Regions from separate parts of the Homo sapiens genome. Here region 2 is reported to be linked to region 1. Evidence: microRNA targets listed by miRTarBase, many of them from high-throughput screens and not tested one by one. Region 1 holds a microRNA gene; the other region holds the end of a gene's coding sequence.
The links. Region 1 holds the annotated microRNA hsa-miR-1265 (CAGGAUGUGGUCAAGUGUUGUU, at 3,266-3,287, opposite strand). A microRNA usually pairs through its seed, bases 2 to 8, with sites in the 3' UTR of a target mRNA and lowers its output. Matches are read on the target gene's strand: a 7mer-m8 pairs with bases 2 to 8, a 7mer-A1 pairs with bases 2 to 7 and ends in A, and an 8mer does both.

Region 2: miRTarBase lists LIN52 as a target of hsa-miR-1265. Seed matches in the 3' UTR shown: 7mer-A1 at 2,629-2,635.

The regions. Positions count from the first base shown.
Region 1 is chr10:14,434,802-14,439,875 of GRCh38, reverse strand. It overlaps MIR1265 (microRNA 1265), which reads right to left and starts at 3,300; the gene lies at 3,215-3,300.
Region 2 is chr14:74,198,391-74,203,461 of GRCh38, forward strand. It overlaps LIN52 (lin-52 DREAM MuvB core complex component), which reads left to right. Exons shown (of 6, transcript NM_001024674.3): 6 at 532-3,103. The coding sequence ends at 587. Among named protein-coding and RNA genes, the nearest start is that of VSX2, 39 kb to the right of the region's middle. RefSeq lists a silencer at 3,783-3,983.

The sequences.
Region 1 (5,074 bases):
TCTGGGAAGTGTCCCCTAGTGGAGTCTATGAAGGGAATAAAGTCTTTGTGTTGTCACACATTGCTCTGCTATTTATGAGATGACATAGATTTGAAATGAAAGACTTATTAAGTCCCGTGGTCCACTTTGCCAGGAAAGACTTCTTTCATTGTAGTACTTCGTTTAGCCTGTAGTATTTGTGCATTTTACCACCTATAAGAAGTCAGATGGAGCAGACTTGCCCTGGGTCAGAACCTAGTCCAGCTCATCCTTCGATCTGCAGGAAGCAGCTCATTCAGTAAAGGCAGCACCAGCAGATGCTTAACAGATGTTTGCTGAATGGAATTAAATTGATAGTTCATCTAAAGCCAAGTCTTTGGCATACTGAAGAATTTCTAGTTTGTTTATTGAATTAACACTTATTTTCTGTAATATATGAAGCACTGGGTGTTGCTTTTTTGATAACTTTTTAATATATGCATAAAACAGATTCATCCATCTTAAATAAATAAGATAAAGTACATGGTACAAGTTTATGCTTAATAAAGCACTTTATGCTGATCAGCTAAAAAATAGAATCAATTCTTCTTTAAAAATGAGAGTGAACTCTGTGTAAAGAATGTGACCCACACTCTGTTTTCGTCTCCTTGTTTTTTTCTAAAAGCAAGTCTTAATCGACCCCACAGGCAAACAAACAAAAAAGATGAATGAGAAACTGTAAAAAATACTGAACTTATAAAGTGCTCTTTATAATATAATATGACAAAGCTTGCAGAAGAATTTCAAAGGATATTAACAGGCTTCTCACAAAAGAGATGGAAATAAACAAGAGATTTCAGTTTTGTACTCTGCACACTTCTGTATCATCGCTTAAATTTTTATCAGCAGAAAAAATATTTCTTTTAAAAATAAATACATAAGAGCAGGCCATGTACAACATTTCTAGAAACAAATGTTATGGGCAATGCCTACATTTAGATTCGGTGGTCTCATTCTCAAGACTCATCGTAAAAGACATTGTTGTAAGGTGACTTCAGAGTGCAAGAGTTGTTGCTTTACACGTTTATTCATCTCTGGCAACTGTGAGGGAAGAAGTAGAGATCTCTATTTAGGCAACACTGAGTAAAGCATGTGGTCAAATAAAAAATTGCAGAAGCATCTGGGTGTGGTGGCTCATGTCTGTAATCTCAGCACTTTGGGAGGCTGAGGCGCGTGGATCACTTGAGGCCAGGTGTTCGAGACCAGCATGGCCAACATGGTGAAACCCCGTCTCCACTAAAAAAAAAAAAAAAAAAAAAATATATATATTAGCCAGGCATAGTGGTGCATGCCTGTAATCCCAGCTACTTGGGAGGCTGAGGCAGGAGAATCACTTGAACCCAGGAGGCAGAGGTTGCAGTGAGCTGAGATAGTGCCACTGTGCTCCAGCCTGGGCGACAGAATAAGACTCTGTCTCAAAATAATAAAAAATAAAAAATTGCAAAAGCAGAGACTTGCCCACATATTAAACATCCCAAAAGTGATTCAATGTTTATTTTAAAACTTTCTTGGTGTTATTATGATTACTTTTTTTTTTTTGAGATGGAGTCTCACCCTGTCACCCAGGCTGGAGTGCAGTGTCACGATCTTGGCTCATTGCCAAGCATGAGGCTGGTCTGAAACTCCTGACCTTAGGTGATCTGCCCACCTTGGCCTCCCAAAGTGCTGGGATTACAGGCCAAATTATTATTACTTTTAATGGCAAAAACTGCAATTACTTTTGTACCAACCTAATGCAACACAGCACCATCAGGTTTAAATAGAATTCCTTTCTTTGCATTAATGGCTTTCCTTAGAGTCTCTATTAAAAAAAACAAATAGCACAATAGCCTCAAGAACTGTAGCCTCACCACTCTTCTGAATTGCTTACCTCTTTGCTAATTAGAACTCAACTGGTTCCGTCTACAGCTTCATTTCTTTTCACCATACGGTGATTCCTTTTGAAATGTTTGCTGATATCTGGTCCTGTCTCTTGATTTTAGTTAGCAGTGCTTGGGAAATCCAAATCCTTCCATTACATTCTCAGGCCATACTACCTTTTAAATCGGTGTTCACATTTATTATTCTGCCATCATCTTGTTTTTATTTGCCAAAATAAATGTTGAAGGGCGGCCAGGTACGCTGCCTCATGCCTGTAATCCCAGTAGTCTGGGAGGCCAAGGTGGGAAGGTCACTTGAGGTCAGGAGTTCAAGACCAGCCTAAGCAACGTGGCGAAACCCTGTTTCTACTAAAAATACAAACATTAGCCAGGCGGTGGTGGCAGACGCCCGTAATCCCAGCCACTGAGGCAGGAGAATCACTTGAACCAGGGAGGCAGAGGTTGCAGTGAGTTGAGATCACACCACTGCACTGCAGCCTGGGCAACACAGTGAGACTCCATCTCAAGAAAGAAAGAGAAAGAAAGAAAGAAAGAAGGAAGGAAAGAAAAGAAAGAAAGAAAAAGAAGAAATGTTAGAGGGGAAAAAATGCCTTAGGGCATCACCACGCAGGGCCAGCTTCCTAGGCCAAACTCCCCAGCCTTCTTCGAACGTTCTGCTGTTGCCATCCTAACATTCTTAATACTTATTGAACAAGGGGCCCACATTTTCATTTTGTACTGGGTTCCTCAAGTTATGAAGCTATTCCTGTCACACCCCTGACCCCCATCCATTTCTGAGACAAGCAGAAAGCTGGAATTGGATGGAATGCTAGAAAAGCCAGCATCGATGTGGCGGAGAGCACAGCATAGATTTTTGCTGTGTTTGTTCATATTTGCTGAACATAGCATCTATGGCCGTACGTGAGGGATGTATGGGTCCCTCAAACTACCAGCTGTTATTCCTTAAAATATACCTGAGGTCTAAGTACATGTTCATGCAGCTTGAAAGCAAGAGAGAGAGAGATGCGTACAAAAGCGGGACAGGAAGCAGCCCAGAATGGTTCATGCGGCTGCACTTCTTTCAAACACTGGGACCCTACCAAGCAGAGTACAGTCAAATATTTCTCCTTACTTTGTGTTACATTCTGATATGTAGAAGTAAATTCTATCCATATGTTTCTGAATTATTTATACCTAACTCCTCAAAATATTATTCTTCAAGACCTTTGGAGGTCTAAAAAACTCTCGAAATGCATTTATATTTTCTTGACCCCTTTTTGTCGAACTCAAAAATAGAAAATGGAGGATTACACCAAATATGTGGAAAAAGTTGTAGAATATGGTTTGGAATTCAAAATGTGGTCAAGTATTGTTCCTGAACATGCCTTAACAACACTTGACCACATCCTGAGTCCCAAACCATAGGTCGATTAGCTAAAACACCAAATCAATAGACGTCTGCTCTCCTACCTCCCCCATCCTCCACCCCCCTGCAGCCCAGCTCTATCACTTCCAGCACAAACATGGCAGCTCCCTCTAACTCTGGTTGACTTGCAGTATGTGCAAACCGAGATAAAGCATTCCTTCAAGACAGCCTTCTCTCATAAAAACCTCAATGATGGATCTGAACAGAGAGAATAATATATGGTCTCTGATCATCGGGTGACAGGCAGCATGCATCCTATTTCTGCCTCTGGTGACATTGGGTGGGCTTTTATCCCTTTAGGACATTGGTCCTCAGACCCAGGATTAAAAGACCCTTCTGCCCCAACCACTCTGTTTGGCCTTTGGTTTCTTTGTTAGTTTCCATTGTGTAAACATCTGAACCACAAGGGGCTTTAATTGAGTGAAAGGCAGAGTTCCAGCTCTGTTCTGTATTTACTGGAGGTACCATGGGCAGAATGATGTTGCCCGGCCATTGCAACACAGAGATGATAGTATTTTCCTTTGAAACCGTGGTATGGGTGGAACCCATCAAAGGATAAGTTGACAGATACGTCTCACATATGTTTATATCCCCTCCTGCTTCTTAGCACAATTCCTTACCACAGAAAACTCTGCATATATATTTCTGATATGAACAAAAAGCTTTCAATACCATAAGCAGAAGCAAAGATGAAATTTTTAGTGATGGTTTCTAAGGGAGCACCAGAAAATTTTTCAAAATTCTTTTCTTTTTTCTTCTTTTTTTAAATTTCTTTTTTTTTTTTTTTTTGAGACAGAATCTCGCTGTTGCCCAGGCTGGAGTGCAGTGGCACAATCTCTGCTCACTGCAACCTCCACTTCCTGGGTTCAAGCGATTCTCCTGCCTCAGCCTCCCAAGTAGTTGGGATCACAGGCATGCGCCATCACGCCTGGCTAATTTTTTTGTATTTTTAGTAGAAATAGGGTTTCGCCATGTTGACCAGGCTCGTCTCGAACTCCTGACCTCAGGTAATCTCCCCGCCTCCGTCTCCCGAAGTGCTGGGATTATAGGTGTGAGCCTCCGCACCTGGCCTGAAAACTCTTTCCTAACCCTCAATGCTGTCACAAAATTTTCTGCTAAAGAAAAATAGCCAATTAATCGAAGACCACCTAGTCATATTTTAGAATTTTCTCCAGAAAGGAAGCTGCAGGAGGACAGGCTGCTTCTCTGTTTTGATTGTTGATGTATCCCAAGGGTCCAGAACAGTACCTGGCATATATGGGTGCTCAATAGACATTTGTCGAATGACTATCAGATGGTAGACATTTCTAGAAGCCATGGCTTTTCACTAAGGATGAAAGCTATCATTTGCCACCTATTTTAACCCCCTTTTGCCCTCATCCCACCCTGCTCCCCGCCAAAAAAAAAAAAAAACCCTTCAAAAAAGAAATCTCCCTCTGTAGCAGACCACCAAACCTAGATCAACTGTGGTCTCCAGACCTAGAGTATAATAGCTTTGAAAAATATTGCAATTAACAATGAAACACAACTTCTTAAATTCATAGTCACTTATAGACAATCGCAGTAAAGAGAGGATTGAAGCTTTTGAAATAGATTTCATTTTCAACAGGGTCCAAATTATTTTTTTCTGGTACATTTTCATTTTTGTCTGAATTGGTCTGCTTTATACTTCATACAAAGATAGTCACTGTGGTGTCTGAGGCAACACATACACATTATCATGCCATTTATGTGGTTGTGGGGGTAGGTTTCTTTTGCATCCTTGACTTTA
Region 2 (5,071 bases), not on the chromosome of region 1:
CTTTATGACACCATCCACAGATGAACTGCACTGAGGGAATATAAACCCTGTTATATTACAGTATCCAGGGACTAACACTGCTGAGAGATAGGGTAAATGATCTCTAATTTTGATTTGAGATTATAAATGTCCAGAGACCAGCAACCCAGAGAAGACTAATCTTGGTTGGATTTTAGGCTTCAAGAGCAAACCCCCTGAGATAGTGAACATGAGTATTAGGTTAGATTCTAGAGACAGAGATAGGTTTTGGGGGAATCCCCTGGTGATTTGTTTAAAGGTGGATGATAAAATCTTTCCCAGTCATTTGGCATGTATCTCAATTGCCAACTTCAGAATAGCTTTGTACAGTTTTAGTTGTCTATAGTGGTTTGTTTTTACCCCCTTTTAGGTTAGTTGGTGATGATTGAATCTGTTGTGATAGCAACTTGATATATAATTTAAATCAATCTGCATTTTTAAATTAAATCTTCCTATGATTCTTTTTTCCGATTTTAGGTTTTCATTGATCATTTGTTTGCTTTGTGATTCCAGCCAGAGAGATGACACGGGGGAAATTCCTCAATATTCTAGAGAAGCCCAAGAAGTAGCAGCTGCTTGCGGACAGGATGTCCTGGGGTCCGAAACCAAGCTCCCTTCCCGGTGCACCTCTAACAATGCACACCTCACTGCTTGCTTGGGAGAGGCCAGAGGGTGTACCTCCAGGACTGCCCTCTCCCCTGCTCCTGGCACTCTACACGTCTGAGGACATTCAGCAGCAAGAGAAGAATCTGCTCTACCCAAGGATCATTGCAGTTACTCAATCAACTTTCAGACTTGAACCTTCTTAGCCTCGGATATTGGTAACAGCTGAGGGCATATCATTCTTAAAGGTCGAAGTCCTGCTTTCTCATTTCTGGAAGTGATTCAGGAGCCCCAGGATCTTACGGTTGATTTGACTCAGTCATGGCAGTCAGTTGTGACATGTTGATTGGATGGGTTCTTTTGAATTGTTCTTGATCTCTTAGAAAGTGTTTACGATGTGAGGAGACCAGAGACCAAGTAGATTCTGGACCAGACCATGCAGCCTGACCTGTGAACTCTCCAGTATATACTAAGTTCCCAGAATCCCCAGCTGAAGAAACCAGAATCTTCTCGAAATGTATATCTGTTTTTTAAAACTTCTATACCTCTTATGATAGTCCCATTTGCTTTTCATTCCTTACTTCCCAGCCCCACCTTCTAGTTCTGACTTCGGGCAGAGGGATCCCTGAGTCCCTCCTGGAATTAGCTTGTATAGTGAAAGGCCCATCCAAGGTTGTCTAAAGACCAATGTGAAGGTGACAGAAAGGACTTTTGAGTTCTAATTAATCTGTTACAGCTTCAAGCAAGAAAGTCAGTATAGCCTGAAAGACAAGAGAAACGGGATGGTTTATAGGAGTTCCCATTTGGTTGAAAGCTAGAAGCCCTAATTGACCTTAAAGTAACATGCTATGGGATGGTGGGATTGTCCCCTCTGACAGCACATATGAAATAGTTCATCTATATAATAGAAACGCACACACACGAAAAAGAATCTTCTGACTTAAATACAACTTTCATGGAGTTCTTCACCACTTATCTGTCTCTGTTAAAATCTGAAAATCTAGCCCATGGCTAAAATCTATTATATGTGTTCTCCATATTTCTTGTATAAGCCAGTCCCCAGCATCTGATGTTTTGAGAAGTGCATGGAGTTTCCTAAACTTTGCACAAAAGAATATCCTGGGGCCGGGCATGGTGGCTCACGCCTGTAATCCCAGCACTTTGGGAGGCCGAGGCAGGTGGATCATAGGTCAAAAGATCGAGACCATCCTGGCCAATATGGTGAAACCCTGTCTCTACTAAAATACAAAAATTAGCTGGGCATGATGGTGCATGCCTATAGTCCCAGCTACTTGGGGGCCTGAGGCACGAGAATCGCTTGAATTCGGGAGGTGGAGGTTGCAGTGAGCCGAAATTATGCCACTGCACTCCAGCCTGGGCAACAGAGTGAGACTCTGTCTCAGAAAAAAAAAAAAAAAAAAAAAAAAAAAAAGAATATCCCTGTGGCAATAGTCTGATGGTGTTTGGACACAAGAAAAGTTATGGTTTTGAGTCGTGAGTGTTTGCTAGGGCATGGCACTCTTCAGTTTAACAGCTGATCCATTAAACCTTTTCTGACATTTGTGCCTTGTTCTCATGCTAGAATTAATGCTGGATTTTTCTCTCATTTGACCATCAATGTAGTTTTACTTATTGAAAGGAAAAAAGACTTAACACAAGATAGGAAAGATGAGTATGAGAAGTAAAACATTCTGCTGGGGTGCTACATAGAAGGTTAGGTTGTAGGGGCTTTGATTTTAATTTAAACTTATTATCGATTGATATTTCTGTATCTCACTAAATGCGGTTGAAGAGTGTGTGTGTGTGTGTGCGCGCGCGCATGTGGCCAAAAAATAGTGCCATAATGTCAAATTCTTCCTTTGCTCTGTTTTTGAGAGTTGATGACATCAGGCACTTTTCAGTGTTTGGGGAAATTGATTGGGATACCTCCCCCAAACCAACTCAAGTCTGTAACTGGAAGCCAGGTGGTTGGTTTTCTGGTCCGCTTTGTCCTCTTTCTTTTACCGTCATCCTATTCACCAGCACTTAATGTAAGTAGATGTTTTAGAATTGCAATATTTATTGGTTTAGTATTTGTCATCCTTAGAAATGTTAATGATGTATTTTTATATTGATAATATAAATTTATGTACAGTATGTGTGTATATGTATTTCAGGATGTTATAGTATTGTACTTTGTATGTGATGGTTTTTGTGTCTTCATAATAAATATGTCCCTTTTACAGGAGGGTGAGTTTTTCCTCAGAGGGCCGAGTTGGATATTTAAAGCACAGACCTCCCCAGAAAGTACAACTGTAATGATAAATAATCTACTGTTTTCCCCCTTAATATACTTAATGGATAGTTGGGGGCTTTACAGTCATCTACTTGGTCTCCTGCCTTCCATTCTATCCTACCACTGCCCAACACCCGAAAGTAGTATTTAGAAACCCTTAATACCTTCCCGTGTCTACTAATAAAGTCTCAATCTCTTGACCCGGCATTTTAAGACTCTCTACATGTAATCCTAAGCAACCCTTCCGTTTCGTTTTCTTCCTCTCCTATATATGAAGTCTCTGTTGCAGTTACTCTGAACAGTTCCCAGTTTCTCACTTGAGTGCCTTTGCTCCTGCCTTTGAGTTCCTAGAAGGTCTTGGATCCCTTTTGCATCTGGCAAACCTATGCTTCCTATAATCTCCTGATGATCCAGCTGGAAATGGTCCTTCCCCTACATTCCTATAGCATTTACCCATATCATCCCTGTGACTCTTACCATAGTCTGCCTTATATTTAAGTGGTCTGAGTACTTTTTCTTTTTGAGACAGAGTCTCACTCTGTTGCCCAGGCTGGAGTGCAGTGGTGCAATTTTGGCTCACTGCAACCTCTGCCTCCCGGGTTCAAGCGATTCTCTGCCTCAGCCACCCTAGTAGCTGGGATTACAGGTGCATGCCACCACGCCCAGCTAATTTTTGTATTTTTAGTAGAGACGGGTTTTTGCCAAGTTGGCCAGGCTGGTCTCGAACTCCTGGCCTCAAGTGATCCTCCCGCCTCGGCCTCCCAAAGTGCTGGGATTACAGGTGTGAGCCACTACGCCTGACACTGAGTACATATCTTATTGCCCTACTAAATTCAAAGCTTCTCAAGGTATAGCTGTCTCCTGCACATCTAGTTCTTCAGTGTCTTTGAACTAGGGGTTCAAAACCTGTTTGCTTGCAGGCTTCTGGTTACACATGATAGATTGAAAACAAGTATTTATCTGCCATCTTCTAAATCCCTTAGTGTGGGTTCCTTTTCAACCATGTTCAAGAACTAGAAAAGAGGAAGTACTCATTATTGCTACTGCTATCACTCATTGATAGTTTACCTGCTCTGGACCAGAATATGCCCTTTTAAAGAAAGCATTTCATTTTAAGGAAAGCAAATTGCTTCTCATCATAGGCCCATCATTTATTTCCAAAAAAGACATCTGGATGAACAGTAGATTTCTGTGATCTAGAAAAGCATGGCTGATTGACTAAGTAGGGACAGTGTTAGGAGTGTTCTAAGTCTTTAGAGACTATTTTTACGGTAAGTAATTGTTTATTATTTGCCTACAGATATTTTTTCCCTTTTCCTTTGCCATTCCAAATACCATCCTGTAAAGCATCTGTCAGCTGTGAGCAGCAACATTCTGAAAAGCATAGTATTGGAGCTTGGAGACACATTTGCAAATTCTTATTGACATTTTTTTCTTACCAGCACTCTCATTATTTCTTGCTGTCTTCAGTCTCACAGATTCTAGGCCTCTGCTGATTTGCTTGGCCTGCCTTCCATAGGTTAGAACACTTAAAGTTCACAGGGTATTAATTGTGTTGATATTGAAATGCCATCATTCATTTTTATCTTTCCATTTTTGTCATATTTTTTAAATGGATGCTTGCTAACTGCTCCGTGGTTTTAGTTCTCTAGCTGCTCTTCTGGATGCTCCCAGATCAAGGCAGTGAAAATGGAACTGATGAAAGTCATTCCCTTGTCCCTGTGGCTTCAGAAGTGTGTTTGGACTTCCACAGGAGCTTTGAAATGAAGCCGAGAAATTTCATTTCCAGTGGGATTCCCTGACCCCTCCTGTTTCCTCCAGGATTAAGACATCACAAGAAGGTGAACAGGCAGAGCAGGAAGTGAGGAAATGGACAGTTGGGCCAAGGTGGATGGTCGCAGAAGCCAAATAACACAGTCTCTTACCAGTTCTCAGCTTCTGCACTAACTCCGTCTCCAAGAATTTGGTTATGTTCTCCATTTTCTGTTTTCTTCATCTCGTGAGAGCTACAAGGATACCTGGTCCCTATGTGGGCTTTGTTTCACCAGAGAGTCTTGCAACCCCCAACCCCAGAGAGTGGCAAAGGGTGGTGTCTCCACGGTTGTAAGTTCTGATGGACTGGAACTGATTTTTCCTATCTATGTAGGCTTTTTGGCATTTGGGGTGTGTGTCCTT